Regions from separate parts of the Homo sapiens genome. Here region 2 is linked to region 1. A link means that fine-mapping ties the variant in region 1 to the expression of a gene that starts in the linked region. Tissue or cell type: whole blood. Region 1 holds a variant in brackets; the other region holds the start of a gene. All regions are shown on one strand. Distances are between the middles of the regions.

Region 1 (8,067 bases):
GCAGGGGTGCCTGGTCAGGGCTGCAGGGGCAGGAAGGGCTTCTCTGGGTTCCAGGCCACGTGGAGCCTGGATTCTGGGGGGTGGGCGGTGGGGAGAGAGCAGCTCTCGCCGGGGGACTGGGGGCAGGAATGGAAGACCTGGCTGGAGGGTTAGACGCTGCCCAGAGGGCGATGCCCGAGGCTACCAGCTGCACCCACGCCCTCAGTGTCTGTGAGCCACACAGGCGTAGTGCACAGTGAGGCTGTGTGCAGCCTATGTGTGCATGTTTGCCTGCGTGCGTGTGTGCACGTTTGTGTGTGTGCATGTTTGCCTGCGTGCGTGTGTGCACGTTTGTGTGTGTGCATGTTTGCCTGCGTGCGTGTGTGCATCTATTTTTGCTTGTGTGGATGTTTGCCTGTGTGTGTGCACGTTTGTGTGTGTGCATGTTTGCGTGCATGTGTGCACGTGTTTGCCTGTGTTCATTTGCCTACGTGCGTGTGTGCACGTGTTTGCCTGTGTTCATGTTTGCCTGAGTGCATGTGTGTTTGCCTGTGTGCCTGTTTGCCTGCGTGCGTATGTACACGTTTGCCTGTGTGCACGTCTGCACGTGTGTTTGCCTGTGTGCATATTTGTCTGTGTGTGTGCACATCTGCATGTACATGGGTCCTGTCATTGCTGCCCGTCTCCTCCCGAGAGCTTTCTCTGCACGTTGGCCCTGCCTTTGCAGCTTCTGCCAGCCCCGTGGCGCCGAGTGGCCTTCTTCCCAGCCCCAGTGGGCGCAGTGGGGTGGGCCGTCCTCTGAGGGCACCCGAGCTGCTGCATCTCCCGTCTTCCCGCATGCAGTCCTCAGGGCACCTGTCCATGAGCCCCATTCACAGGAGCAGTCCCCAAGGCACCTGTCCCACCTGGGCCACCCTTGGCCCTGCGTCCGTAGCCAGAGCTTGGAGGGCTTTGTCCACCAGGCCTGGGACCCTGGGATCCTTCCTCAGAGTCCCCCGGCGTGGGGGCAGTGTGGAGGGTGGCGCGGGTGGAGGGTGGCCCGGGTGGCGGGGTGAATTCCTGGGGAGAGCCTGCCCCCTGGCGGCCACCTGGGAGAATGCAGGGAACATGGCTGAGCAGCGTCGGCTGTGGAGGGAGGGCAGGGGCAGGGGTCAGGGCTGCAGGCGTGTCCCTGGGGCTGATAGCGGTGGGATGGGGTCTGGCCAGTGGAGGGTCCATGGGGTCTCCTAGCAAACGCAGTGGCGCTCCTTAAATGACGGTGCCAGGCGGGGCTGTTCTCCTTGGTTGGCCTCTGTGTCCCTTCAGGCTCCCAAGGCCCCTCCTCACATCCTCCCTCGAGGGCAACAAGCTGAGGCCCCCTGGGGTCGGCGGTCCCATCTGCTGGGACACCCGCGCTGCCCGACAGCTTGCAGGAGCCGGGCCTGACCCTGGCCAGTGAGACCATCTCCCTCAGGGACAAGGTGGTCTTTTCAATCCTTCCATCCCAGCGGTCTCACAGTTAGGGGCCCTGGTGAGGGAGAGGAGTTACGACTCCCACCACCACCTCAGGCGGTGGGTGAGATGCTCTGAGGCTGGCCTGGCTCACACCGTGTTGGCAGGAAGCCTGACCCCCGCTCTGTTCCCACCCCCACCTCAGTCCTGTTTTTTTAAAAAATACCCACTTTACTGAGATGTGATTTGCATACTGTACTCTCTGAAGTGTGCAGTGAGTGACTTTTAGTACATTTGCAGAGTTGTGTGGGGACATCTGTGGTTGCCACAACTGGGAGGTGCTCCTGGCATGGAGTGGGTGGAGGCCAGGAATGCTGCTCAGCACCCTGCTGTGCCCAGGGTGGCCCCACCCCAAAGAACGGTCCAGCCCCAGTGTCCACAGCACCTGGGGGAGACCCTGGAATTAGAGGGCTGGAGCTGCCCAATCCTCTTGCCCTTCCTGAGGAGGCAGAGGTCTCCACCTTGGAGTGAGCGCTTCTGGGTGTCCAGTGTGGGACACTGAGGGGCCCCAGCCAGCCCGCCAGGCGCCCACGGGTGAGGGGCCTCCTGCTGCACCCCGGAGTCGCCTGGACCTGCCCCCTGCCCTGTGCACCCCTGCTGGGCCCAACGACTAAACCTTTCTTCCCAGGGTTTCAGAGCGTGCCCTGTCCCGGTGGGCGTGCTCCTTAGGGAGTTAACGCTTCCTGCTTCCTCTTCCCAGGTTCTGTCCATGACGGCACAGCCGGGCCCTGGCCATGGGAAGAAGTTGGGCCATCGAGGTGTGGACGCATCCGGCGAAACCACCTACAAGAAGGTTCCTCGGCTCCCCTTAGCTGGCTGGAGGGAGCGGGACAGAGCAGAGGGGAGGGGGATCCCACTGGTAGCATGGATGGGGCCTATCGCCCCCGACACAAACCAGGGTCTGCCCAGGGACAGGTGTGGGCTGTGTGGAGGCAGAGGCTGGAGTCCTCAGTCCTGCATGAGGCCCCACTGTTTGCTGTCCTTGCCGGGCGGCCGGGCAGCATGTTCTGTGGCTCAGCCTGGCTGCAACGCCTGCCCGGCTCTGAGTCCCTGAAACCTCGGGCAGAGCCTGGGCTCTCGGCCCTGGTGAGGGAGAGGGGTTATGGACCCCACCACCACCTCGGGCAGTGGATGGGACACTCTGAGGCTGGCCTGGCTCACACCGTGTTGGTAGGAAGCCTGACCCCCACTCTGTTCCCACCCCCACCTAGGGCCTGTTTTTTCAAAAGTAACCGTTTTACTGAGATGTGATTCATATACTGTACAATTCAGCCTTTAAAGTGTGCAGTAAATGACTTTTAGTACATATGCAGAGTTGTGCAGCCGTCACCTCTAATTCCAGAACATTGCATCAGCTCAAATAGCAACTCTGTCCCTGTTAGCAGTCACCCCCATCCCGACTCCCAGCCCTGGCACCCACATCCCTTTCCTGCGTCTGTGGATCAGCCTGTCCTGGACGTGTCATAGAAGTGGAATCACACACTGTGTGGCTTTCTGTGTCTGGCGTCTCTCACTGAGTGTAGCGTCCTCAGGGTTCATTCGCACTGGGGCCCGTGTCAGAGCCTTGCTCCTGTTCATGGCTGAGTCGTGTTCTGGTGCGTGGGGCGCCCGTGCTGCACTTGTCCTTTGCTGCGTCATGGACGCTCGGGTGCTTCACACTCCTGGCCATTGTGAATTGTGCTGCTGAGGACACGTGTGTGTGAGTCTGTGTGGATACATGTGTTCGTTTGTCTCGGGCAGACACCCAGGAGTGGAATTGCCAAGTCACGTGTAACTCGGTGTCATCTTTTGAGAAACTCGCAAACTGTTCTCCATAGCAGCGGTACCGTTTTCACACCCAGCAACAGTGAATGAGGCCCAGCGTCCCCGTGTCCTCACCAGCACTCGTGATTGTTGTCTCTGATTCTGGCGTCCTCATGGGTGTGAGGTGGTGTCTCTTCGAGGTGTCTTTTTGTTTGTTTTGGTAGAGACAGGGGTTTCACCATGTTGCCCAGGCTGGTCTTGAACTCCCAGGCTCAGGGGATCCTCCCACCCCGGCCTCCCGACTGGCCGGGATTCCAGGTGCGTGGCCCCCCTGTGGTTTGATGTGCTTTCCCTTGGTGCCCAGTGGCATGGAGCGTCTTTGCGGGCTTCAGGGCCGTTTGTATGTTATCTTTGGGCACATGTCTGTTCTGTCCGTGGCATCTCGGGGAGGTGAACATACAGGCCAGACCCCCCACCACCCAGAGTGTGGCTTAGGAGGGAGACAGGCCGAAACTGGGCAGTGGCAGAAACCAACTCCCAACTCCCGACCTCCCTCCCTGCCACCTCGCACCTGCGACAGGAGCACTGGAGACCGGAATTAGAGAGCGGAGGTATGAGCCGGCTTCCCAGGGCTAAAGTGAACATGGCGC[G/CG]AGAGCACACAGTGAGAATAATGCAAACGATGCCAATGGCAAAAATAACAGCAGCCGGCCGGGCGCGGAGGCTCACTCCTGGAATCCTAGCACTTTGGGAGGCCGAGGCGGGAGGATCACCAGAGGTCAGGAGTTGGAGACCAGCCTGGGCAACATGGCGCAACCTTGTCTGTACTAAAAATACAAAAAAATAATTAGCCGGGTGTGCTGGTGCGTGCCTGTAATCCCAGCTCTTGGGAGGCTGAGGCGGGAGAATAGCTTGAACCCAGGAGGCGGAGGTTGCAGTGATCCAAGATCGCACCACTGCATTCCAGCCTGGGCAGTAGAGCAAGACTCTGTCTCAAAAAATAATAACGGGGCCGGCGTGCTGGCTCACACGTGCAATCGCAGCATTTTGGGAGGCCCAGGCAGGTGGATTAGCTGAGGTCAGGAGTTCGAGACCAGCCTGGCCAACATGGTGAAACCCCGTCTCTACTAAAAATACAAAAATTAGCCAGGCGTGACGGCGCGCACCTATAATCCCAGCTACTCAGGAAGCTGAGGCAGGAGAATCACTTGAACCTGGGAGGTGGAGGTTGCAGTGAGCTGAGATTGCGCCACTGCACTCCAGCCTGGGCGACAGAGCAAGACTCTGTCTCAAAAAATAAACAAATAAAAATAATAACAGCAGCTGACACCACGTCCGCAAGAGGGCCAGAACCATTGTGCCCATCCCTGTCTACAGGCAGGGAAACTGAGGCACATAGCGGCCATGTGGGTTGCCCAGTGTGACCACGTGCGTTACATAGAAAGCAGCTAACGGGAACCTGCGTCTGCAGATGTGAAAGTGATCTGGGCATCTCGCTGTAAATGGTACCCCCTAAAAACAAACTCTTGACAGTGAATCGACCCTTTTGCTAAGTTGGAGCTGTTTCAAAATGGGAGAACCTTTAGAACCTAGCTAGCCAACAGGACTGGGAGGGCTGAGTGACGTGGTGCGGCAGTTGCAGCCGAGCCCTGTCCTGGCTGTGTGGCCCGAGGGAGGGTGGCTTCATCCCCCGGCCTGATGTCGACAGCTCAGCAGCCGCAGGACAGGCAGCCCCGGGGACCACCAGGAGGGGGTTGGCAGGTGCCGGGTCCCAAGCTGCAGCTGGTCACGATCTCCACCCCCCGGTGCACACAGGGGGTGCAGGGCAGCGTGGGGAGCAGCCGGGGGCCCTGACACTCTGGTCTCCCTGCAGACCACCTCCTCCACCCTGAAGGGTGCCATCCAGCTGGGCATCGGCTACACCGTGGGCCACCTGAGCTCCAAGCCCGAACGCGACGTGCTCATGCAGGACTTCTACGTGGTGGAGAGCATCTTCTTCCCCAGGTGGGCCGGGCCCCCGGAGCCTCAGGGCTCACCCAGCACACACGTGGCTCTGAGGCGGAGTGGCCTGTCCTGAGCGCCCTTCTCTGCTGAAAGCAGCACCTGGCCCCTCCTGGCGCCTCCTTGGCCTTGAGCTCTGGCCCTCTGTCCGTCAGGACGTTTGTTTGCTGCTGAATCAGAGACCCAATGTAAAGGCAGTTTAAGAACAGGAAAAAGAAAAGATAGAAGTTAGCTCTTTTCTAATCTACAAATAACCAGTGGGCAGTGCAGGGCTGGTCAGGAGGTTCCATGGTGTTGGGGTCCTGGGATCCTTCTGGTCACCCCACACCGCCATCCTCAATATACAGCTCTGTGACCAGTGGTCCCAGGTGGCTGCCAAAGCTCCTGCCATCACGGCTGCATTCCAGCCACAGGAGGCAACAGAAGGAGAACAACAGCCCTTCCCTTTCGGACATGACCAGTGTTTCTGCTCCACTCGTGTCATTGGCTGAGTGCAGTCACGTGAGCACACCTAGCTGCAAGAGGCTGGGGCGGCATGGTCCTGTTCTTGGCGGCCATGTGCCTGGCCAACACTGTGGGCCCCGTTGTTAATGAAAGAAGAGAGGGTGGTTACTGGGGGACAGTCCCATCGGGAGCCCCCTGTTGCTTGTGGGATTGGGCCGTTTCAAGGAAGTCTTGGAGCTGAGCCGCTAGAGGCTCAGCTGCTAGAGGCACTAGGAGGGACCATGGCGGGGGTGGGGGAGAGGTGCCCACCACCCCTCACAGGTTTCCTCCCGTCCTTCCTCCACAGCGAAGGCAGCAACCTCACCCCCGCCCACCACTTCCAGGACTTCCGCTTCAAGACCTATGCACCTGTCGCCTTCCGCTACTTCCGGGAGCTCTTTGGGATCCGGCCAGATGATTACTTGGTAAGCATATTTGCTGTTACGGGCTTCCAGGCTTGAAACAGAACATGTTCAGGGTCTCGGAGGGTCTGTGGGTCAGGCATTTGGGGGCAGCCTCCCTGGGTTCCTCGTGTAGGGTTATGGTCAGGTTCAGGGCCGGAGTCTCCTGTGAGACTCACCGGGAAAGCAGGAGAGATCGGCCTCCAAGCTCACATCACTGGCAGCTGCAGGACTCCGTCCTGGCTGGCGTTGGCTGGGAGCCTCCATTCCTCACCATGTGGGCCTTGTCATCAGAGCAGGCGAGGGTGTCCACTCACCAAACAGTTGGTATAGTCTTCTGCAGCCTGGTGCCAAAGTGACTGACCCATTTTCAGACTTAAGGGTTAGAACAAGGCACTGGGACGTGGGTGCCACTGGGGACCAGCGTAGAGTCGGACCTCCTAGCTCTAGCCATGGCTTTATTGTTTCAGGTTAGCAAAGTCAAAATCTAGGCCAACCCCTTTGACCTAGCAGCCCATTATCCGGGCTCCTAAAAGAGGTGTTTGGAGGGTGGTGCTCCCCACAGTGGCCCTGGAGCTCATCAGCGCCAGCACCCCCTTTTTTTTTTTTCGAGACAGAGTCTCGCTCTGTCGCCCAGGCTGGAGTGCAGTGGTGCGATCTCGGCTCACTGTAAGCTCCGCCTCCTGGGTTCACGCCATTCTCCTGCCTCAGCTTCCCGAGTAGCTGGGACTACAGGTGCCTGCCACCACGCCCGGCTAATTTTTTGTATTTTTAGTAGAGACGGGGTTTCACCGTGTCAGCCAGGATGGTCTCGATCTCCTGACCTCGTGATCTGCCTGTCTCAGCCTCCCGTAGTGCTGGGATTAGAGGCGTGAGCTACCGCCTCAGCCTCCCGAAGTGCTGGGATTCCAGGCGTGAGCCCCGGCATCCAACCTGCGCCATCACCACTTCTAAAAGCTCCGGGTGGCCTTTTCCCAAGCCTGCCTGGTCATCCCGAGAACTTTGTATCAGGGAAGACTGGAACTCTGTAGACAAGTGCGGTTGGCGTTCTGGTTGTCACGACAGCACGGTCCCCGGGGCCGGGAGCCTGTGGTTCTCCGATCCTGCCCTCACCCGCGGTGGTCGGTTCCTTGTGCCTTTCTTTGGTGGTTGCTGACTGTGCGTGCGTTTGGTTTATCTCAGTCTGTAGGAAGCGCCCGAGGCTGCGCTCTTCCAGGGAGAACTAGCATGTGCTCCAGCCAGGGGTACGTGTGACACCCCCCCCTCCCCCGCCCCGAGAACTCCAGCCTGTTCAGGTGCCCGGGAGTCACCATGCTCCGGGTCGTGTCGCCAAGGCCCAGCCTCCGGACTTCAGTGTCCCAGCGTTTGCCTGAGCTTGGCAGGGCAGTGGGGAGTGAAAACACAGCTGGGGTTTTTGCCTAGAAATGGCCCTCGGGTGACCTGGACGCTACCGTGTGAGGCGGCCAGGAACAGAAGGCAGCAGCCTGGCTCGTAGCAGAGAGACAGCACCCGTGTCCATTAGCAGGAGTGGACGGATAAAAGCCGATCTGGGGCCATCTGGGTCTCACCTAGAACCCGATAAGATCGCATTCCAGGGCCTTAGGCCAGGTGTGCACCCACAGCATCTGGGGAGCCAGCCCGGTGTTGGTGACCCCCGAATCCTTCTGCTCATCTCAGGAGTGTGAGAATTCTCTTGGGGGCCTCCGGTGCTGAGCAGGCGGCAGCCCCCTAGCCTCTGTCCAGGCTGTGGTGTGAGTGTGGCCGTGTGCCACAGCGGGAGGACGGGCTAGTGTGCGTGTTGCTGTCCACAGGGCCCCTGAGCTTGAGTGGGGACAGGTAGGGTTCGGAGGGGACTCGAGGTTGCCGGTGCTTCTCTGATTGGACAGCTGAGGTCACAGTCCCCCCTGGTAAGGGGGGTAGCTCCAGGAAGGCCCACAGCTCAGGACAGCCAGGAAGGAGAAGGCGGAGGTGG
Region 2 (8,056 bases), 77 kb after region 1:
GTCAGTAGTGCTGGTACCAACATCATTGCCCCACTTTTCAATGAGGACCCATTTTGCAGGCAGAGAAACTGAGGCTCCGAGGAGAAGTTCTTACCCAAGACCGCACTGACTCAGTGGAGGAGCTGAAGGTGCAGAAGCCTGGGGAGAGCCCCTCCCCTTCACTCACCGCTTCCTCCACTGTGGCAGCCCCCCCAGAACGAAGCCGCAGGGTCTCCCTCCCGCTGGTCACTTTCGCCTCTACTGGACATTTGCTGGACCGACTTCTCTGGCCAATCATATCTGGAGGGAACAGAGTGAGGGATGGCCATGGGTTCTGGGTGGAGCCACATCTTTGTAAACCCTGGGAGGCCAACAGCCGAGCCTTTCTAGAATCTTCCTCCCCTTCAAAGTCCTCCTTACATCTGTACGGCAAGTCTCCAGAGACCTATTCGAGATTCCACACTTCGCATCCCCAGCAAACTAAATCACAAGTCCAGAATGAGGTGTTGTAATGGAGCAGGTTTAGAACTAACATCCCAGTTCCATGCCCTCACTCTCCCTCTTCTAGCGACTTTCTCTAGAAGGGACTGCTTGGGACCCTCCTTGTGGTAGGATCCTCAATCTAGATATGTTCTTGTCTGGGTTCCAGAACCCGGCTTAGTGTCAGGACTGAGGTGCTAGAAACACACTTAGTCTCAGAGCTGGCCTGGGCTTAAGAGCAGGGCTTGGTCTGAGAGCTGGCCTGGGCTCTAGAGCTGGGTTTAGTCTCAGACTAAGCTTGATTTTTTTTTTTTTTTTTGAGATGTTGTCTTGCTCTGTCACCCAGGCTAGAGTGCAATGGCACGATCTCGGCTTACTGCAGCCTCCACCTCCCAGGTTCAAGCGATTCTCCTGCCTCAGCCTCTCGAGTAGCTGGGATTACAGGCACCTGCCACCATGCCCAGCTAATTTTTTGTATTTTTAGTAGAGACAGGGTTTCACCATATTGGCCAGGCTGGTCTCGAACTCCTGACCTCGTGATGCACCCGCCTTGGCCTTCCAAAGTACTGGGATTACAGGCTTGAGCCACTGCACCCAGCCAGGTTTTTTTTTTTTTTTTTTTGATACGATGGATCACCTGACCTCAGGTGATCCACCTGCCTTGGCCTCTCAAAGTGCTGGGATTACAGGTGTGAGCCACCACGCCCGGCCTAAACTCTATTTTTAGGCATGGCTTTTGGAGTTCACAGCCACGGCAGGGCAGATTCTAGAACCCCATACAGCTCACTCTCCCTGGGACGTCTCTCCATGTGTGCTGGGGCACTTCTAGAATCTCTGTCTCTGTTCTATAGAACAACGCTATCCAAAGGGCCAACCCATGGCTACATGAGGAGAATGTGCTAGTGTGTAAATCAATACACTGTTTTCTTCATTGAGAAAGTCTAGTTATGAAAAAAAATGGGCAGGGTGCAGTGGCTCATGCCTGTAATTCCAGCACTTTCGGAGGCCGAGGCGGGCAGATCACCTGAGGTCGGGAGTTCGAGACCAGCCTGCCAACATGGAGAAACCCCATCTCTACTAAAAATACAAAATTAGCCAGGCATGGTGGCACATGCCTGTAATCCCAGCTAGTTGGGAGGCTGAGGCAGGAGAATCACTTGAACCTGGGAGGCAGAGGTTGTGGTGAGCCGAGATCACACCATTGCACTCCAGCCTGGGCAACAAGAGCAAAACTCCGTCTCAAAAAAAGAAAAAAATTAAAAATTAGCTGGCACGGCCAGGCGCGGTGGCTCACACCTGTAATCGCAGCACTTTGGGAGGCCGAGGTGGGCGGATCACGAGGTCAGGAGATCGAGACCGTCCTGGCTAACACGGTAAAACCTCATCTCTACTAAAATACAAAAAATTAGCCGGGTGTGGTGGCGGGCGCCTGTAGTCCCAGCTACTCGGGAGGCTGAGGCAGGAGAATGGTGTGAACCCGGGAGGCGGAGCTTGCAGTGAGCTGAAATCTAGCCACTGCACTGCAGTCTGGGCGACAGAGCTAGACTCCGTCTCAAAAAAAAAAAAAGAAAAGAAAAGAAAAAAGAAAGGAAAAAAAAAAGAAAAGAAAGAAAACTTTTTTCTCATATTCTCATTCTCTACAATCCACCATGACCTCAAAGCACTGCTTTAAAAGTTCCCAGGCTGCGCGCGGTGGCTCACGCCTATAATCCTAGCATTTTGGGAGACTGAGGCGGGTGGAGCACTTGAGGTCAGAAGTTCGAGACCAGACTGGTCAAGATGGTGAAACCCCGTCTCTACTAAAAATACAAAAATTAGCCAGGCGCAATGGTGGGTGCCTGTAGTCCCAGCTACTCGGGAGGCTGAGGCAGGAGAATCGCTTGAACCCGGGAGGTGGAGATTGCAGTGAGCTGAGATCGCGCCATTGCACTCCAGCCCAGGCAACAGAGTGAGACTCCGTCTCAAAAACAAACAAACAAACAAACAAACAAAAACAAGTCTCCCAGCCTGGCTCCAAAGTGGTTCTGGACGCGTCCTCCTCCAACTCCACTTTACCCAGTCTCTCCCCCACCCCTCCCCCACAGGCTGACTCCATAACAATCTATTAATAGAAACTACCTACGAGTTTCTGATACCCTGCCAGGAGCTCCTTGGCACGCAGCGGGTGCACCTAGAACCTTCCAGCCCGTCCCATCCCCGACCCTCCTCCACCCCAGGCATCCGTAGAACGCACTTCGGGAAGAGCTCCCGCCAGCCCACCCGCCTCACCGAAGGCCCTCTTGGGCTGCACCAGGCGCAGGGTGAAGGGCTGGGACTTGGGCAGCTCCCGGAGCATCTTGGCCACCTCGTAGTGGCGGCAGCCCACAATGGAGTGGTCGTTGATGGCTTCGATGCTGTCACCCACGCACACTGCCTCGATCCGGTTGATGATACTGCCTTCCTTGATTCTCTGCAGGGATCCAGCGTCGCTGGCAGGGCAACCCCAGCCACCCGCCTCCAATCCGCAGAACCCACGTCGACCCAGAGTGGGGGGGGCAGTTGCTGGACCCCAGGAAGCCACCCGCCCACCCCCTCCCGGGCACCTTGATGAAGGCGTAGCCAGCCCCGTTGTCCGTGATGGTCAGCCCCAGAGCATCCTCTGTCTTAGTGACCTCCACCTCCTTGGTCTCGCCTCGCACGTGGGCAAAGATGAAGTCCTCCAGGCCTATCTGACCCCCCAGGAGCTTCTGCATGTCCACTTTGTGGCTGTTGAGGGTGCAGAATAAAATCTTCCCGGGGGAGAAGGAGCCTAGAGTTAGCCAGGGCATGCATCCCCCCACGCAGCCACCCTGTCTGCGCAGGCCCCTGCCCCCAGCGACCAGGATCCCAGCCCATGGGAAAGGGCAGGGCGTGGGACCCCCAGAACAGAGAGAGGAGGGAGAAGGAGACTTCCAGCAGGTGGAGACCCCTCTCCATACCCCGGGACCTCCAGCCCCCAGACCTCCAGGTTTAATCTGCTGGCGCCCCCTGGGGGCTGCAAACCAAACGAACCCGGATTGGAAAAACGCCCAGGAACCCCCCAACCCCACGGCGGCCTCAAACTTCCCATCCCTAAGGGGGCCATCTGGAACCCCAGACCCCAGCTACGCCCAGGAAGCACAGAGGCGCTTCCCCGAGGGCTGGGGTCCGCTCCAAGCTAGGTCTGCGCAGAGGATTTTCTGGAATATCTAGGGGTCCGCTAGTCCTAAGACCTGCCCATCTTTTGCGCAGAGCGTGCAAAGGGGGCCCCTGGGAGTGTGGCACCCCGGGATCTGAGGGCTGGGTCTCTGAGATCCGGCGATTAGGCGGCCACCCCGACGTCTGGGATCCGGGGATCTGGGGTCTCCCGTCCAGGGTCCAAGCTCCCTACCCCTCACCCCATCAGGCGGGTGGTCTTGGGCGCCGGTGTCCGGGCTCCTTACCTCGGTGGGCGCGATCCCGAAGGCTTCGGCGATCTTGGCGTACAGCTCGCGGACGTTGGTGAAGCCCTCGATCTTGCCCGTGGGGCTCCCGTGCGCCAGCTGCGTGCGGAAGACGAGGCGCGGGCGGGCGCGGGGCGCGGCCGGGGGCTCCGAGGGCGCGGGCGGGGGCGCAGACGCGCGCGGGGTCTCGGTCCCCCGGGCCTCCCGGGCCGCTGCTCCCTCCATGGCGGGAGAAGTTCGGCCACCCACCCGGGCCCTCGCCGCCGCCGCCGGATCCGCCGCTTCCTGCAGCCTCCCCTCCCCCGGCCCAGGGCGCGACAGCCGAGACGCCCGGGTAAGGGGATCTGGGAACCCGAGCCTCCCGGGAAGGCGACACCGCGGGGTGCGCAGGGGTGGGTCGGGCCCCAGGTGTCCGGGCCCTGCCAGGGCCAGCTGTGCCCTCCCCGGGGATACCCGCAGTCCGGGGGGGCCTGAGCTCAGGACCCTGGAAGAACAGGGACCACAAATAAGGACAGGGACAGGCCTGGAGCGGTGGCTCACGTCTGTAATTCCAGCACTTTGGGAGGCCGAAGCGGGCAGATGACCTGAGGTCAGGAGTTCAAGACTAGCCTGGCCAACATGGTGAAACCCCGTCTCTACCAAAAATACAAAAATCAGCCGGACGTGGTGGCGGGCGCCTGTAATCCCAGCTACTCGGGAGGCTGAGATCTCTTGAACCCGGGAGGCGGAGGTGGCAGTGAGCTGAGATGGCGCCATTACACTCCAGCCTGGGCAACAAAGCGAGACTCCGTCGCAAAAAAAAAAAAAAAAAAAAAAAAAAGGACAGGGACAGCTGAGGGTGCTGGAGCACTCACCCTCTGCTAGGCGAGGTCATTGTTTTATTTTATTTTATTATTTTTATTTATTTATTTATTTTGAGCTGGAGTCTCGCTCTGTCACCCAGTTTGGAGTTCAGTGGCACGATCTCAGCTCACTGCAACCTCTGCCCACCAGGTTCAAGCAATTCTCATGCCTCGGCCTCCCCAGTAGCTGGGATTACAGGCATATACCACCATGCCCGGCTAATTTTTTTGTATTTTTAATAGAGATGAGGTTTCACCATGTTGGCCAGGATGGTCTTGAACTCCTGACCTCAGGAATCCACCCACCTTAGCCTCCAAAAAAGCTGGGATTACAGGCATGAGCCACCACGCCCAGCCTTTGGTTTGTTTGTTTGATTTTGGAGACGGAGTCTAGCTCTGTCGCCCAGGCTGGAGTGCAATGGCGTGATCTCGGCTCACTGCAACCTCCACCTCCTGGGTTCAAGCGATTCTCCTGCCTCAGCCCCCCTAGTAGCTGGGATTATAGGCGCACACCACCATGCCTGGCTAATTTTTGTATTTTTTAGTAGAGACAGGGTTTCACCATGTTGGTCAGGCTTGTCTCGAACCCCTGACCTCAGGTGATCCACCTGCCTTGGCCTCCCAAAGTGCTGGGATTACAGGCGTGAACCACCGCACCCGGCCGCATTCAGTTTTTTAAAATTTAATTTAGAAACATGATTAATTTTTTGTACAGTTGGGATCTCACTGTGTTGCCCAGGCTGGTCTCAAACTCAAGACCAGGAGGTTCAGGCCATCCTTCAGCCTTGGCCTCCCAAAGTGCTAGGATTACAGATGTGAGCCACTGTGCCCAGCTTCTCTTCAGCATTTAAAGCTACCATCTGACATATCAGATATTTTATTTTATTTTATTTTTTGAGACGGAGTCTCTCTCTCTTGCCAAGGCTGGAGTGCAGTGGCACGATCTCGGCTCACTGCAACCTCTGCCTCCCGGGTTCAAGCGATTCTTCTGCCTCAGCCTCCTGATTAGTTGGGATTACAGGCACCTGCCACCATGCCCAGCTAATTTTTTTTGTATTTTTAGTAGAGACGGGGGTTTCACCATGTTGGCCAGGATGGTCTCGAACTCCTGACCTCAAGGAATCCTCCCGCCTCAGCCTCCCAAAATGTTGGGATTACAGGCTTGAGCCCCAGCCCCCTGCTGATATTTCATTTCATCTTTTGTCCTGTTTGTCCCCAGGACTGGAGGAATGTCAGCTCCAGGAGGGTGGGGGCTGTTCCCCTGCTCTGTCCCCATGCCCAGTGTCCAGGGCACAGTGCCTGGCATACAGCAGGTGCCCAGTGATCTTTGGTGAGGAATGAACGGATGTCCAGGTCACAGATGAAGGAGGAGACCCCAGGCACCAGGAGGCGTTGGTAAAAATCCGCTGGAGTGCAATGTCAGAAACACCTACGTATCCATCAGATTCCTACCCAGGAATGTCGGCTCAATAAACAGCCATCCTGCCTGCAGTGGCGGGCCCTACAGCAGAGCCAGTCACAGCCTCCGCCCAGGAGGAGCCTCACAAACTGAACATGGGGAGAGAAAAGAAAGTGGCAGGAGGGTTTGGACGAGGTAAGAAATTTTATGTAAGGCCGGGCACGGTGGCTCATGCCTGTAATCCAGCACTTTGGGAGGCTGAGGCAGGCGGATTGCTTGAGGTCAGGAGTTCGAGACCAGCCTGGACAACGCAGTGAAACCCCATCTCTACTAAAAACACAAAAATTAGCCAGGTGTGGTGGCGCACACCTGTAGTCCCAGTTACTCGGGAGGCTGAGGCAGAATTGCTCCAACCTGGGAGGCGGAGGTTGCAGTGAGCCAAGATCATGCCACTGCACTCCAGCCTGGACAACAGAGTGAGACTGTCTCAAAAAAAAAAAAAAAAAAAAAAGGCCAGGTCTGGTGGCTCACCCCTGTAATCCCAGCACTTGGGGAGGCCAAGGAAGGCAGATCACAAGGTCAAGAGATCAAGACCATCCTGGCCAACATGATGAAACCCCATCTCTACTAAAAATACAAAAATTAAATTAGCTGAGTATGGTGTCATGTGCCTGTAATCCCAGCTACTTGGAAGGCTGAGACAGGAGAATCACTTGAACCCGGGAGGCGGAGGTTGCAGTGAGCCAAGATCGCGCCACTGCACTCCAGCCTGGGACAGACAAGAGCGTGACTCCGCCTCAAAAAAAAAAAAAGAGAGAGAGAGAGGGATTCACCTGCCTCAGTCTCCCAAGTAGCTGGAATTACAGGCATGCACCACCATCCCTGGCTATTTTTGTATTTTTAGTAGAGACCGGGTTTCACTATGTTGGCCAGGCTGGTCTGGAACTCTTGGTCTCAAGTGATCTGCCTGCCTCGGTCTCCCAAACTGCTGGAATTACAGGCGTGAGCCACTGTGCCCAGCCCACACAGCTTTTTGAATGTACCAAAACCTACTGAATTGTATACTGAAATTTTTTTTAATAAAAAACTGCTGCAAAATGCTATTTTCCAGGCCTGCCTAGAAATGAGAAACTCTAAATTTAAGGTGGTGGTACCTGTGCCAGGACAGGGTGAAACTGGGGTGGGGAGTGAGGGGGGTTGGCAGTATCAGGTTGTCTGACTCGCCCATGATGGCTGTAACAAAGCACCAAAAACTGGGTGTGGTGAGGTGGCTCTTGACTGTGATCCCAGCACTTTGGGAGGCCGAGGCGGGAGGATCACTTGAGCCCAGGAGTTTGAGACCAGCCTGAGGAATAAGGTGAGACCCCATCTCTACAAAAAATACAAAATTAGCGGGGTGTGGTGGCACACACCTGTAGTCCCAGCTACTTGGGAAGCTGAGATGGGAAGATTGCTTGAACCCAGGAGGTATAGGCTGCAGTGAGCTGTGATGGCATCTCTGCACTTCAGCCTGGGTGACAGAGCAAGATCCTGTCTCAACCACAAAGAAACAGCTGGGTGCAGTGGCTTATGCCTGTAATCCTAGCGTTTTGAGAGGCTGGCCCAGATGGATCGCTTGAACCCGGTAGTTCAAGACCAGTCTGGGCAACATAGTGAGACCCCATCTCACAAATACCAATAAATTGACTGGGTATGGTGGCTCATGCCTGTAATTCCAGCACTTTGGGAGGCTGAGGTGGGTTGATCACTTGAGGTCAGGAGTTTGAGATCAGCCTGGGCAACATGGTGAAGCCCCATCTCTACTCAAAATACAAAAATTAGCCAGGCTTGATGGTGAGTGCCTGTAATCCCAGCTACGTGGGAGAATCGCTTCAACCCGGGAGGTGGAGGTTGCAGTGACCTGAGATCCAGCCATT

Evidence for each region. PIP is the estimated chance that this variant, and not a neighbour inherited with it, causes the effect.
Region 2: GIPC3 starts here. The variant in region 1 is fine-mapped to the expression of GIPC3 in whole blood (INTERVAL, PIP 0.95).

Annotation. Positions count from the first base shown.
Region 1 is chr19:3,659,018-3,667,084 of GRCh38, reverse strand. PIP5K1C (phosphatidylinositol-4-phosphate 5-kinase type 1 gamma) reads left to right here. Exons shown (of 18, transcript NM_012398.3): 3 at 2,171-2,263; 4 at 5,084-5,214; 5 at 6,002-6,119. Among named protein-coding and RNA genes, the nearest start is that of CACTIN, 36 kb to the right of the region's middle. RefSeq lists a silencer at 949-1,058 and an enhancer at 988-1,818. The variant G/CG (reference allele first, on the strand shown) is at 3,864.
Region 2 is chr19:3,581,666-3,589,721 of GRCh38, reverse strand. GIPC3 (GIPC PDZ domain containing family member 3) reads right to left here and starts at 4,244. Exons shown (of 6, transcript NM_133261.3): 1 at 3,900-4,244; 2 at 3,042-3,227; 3 at 2,728-2,908; 4 at 167-279. The coding sequence starts at 4,124.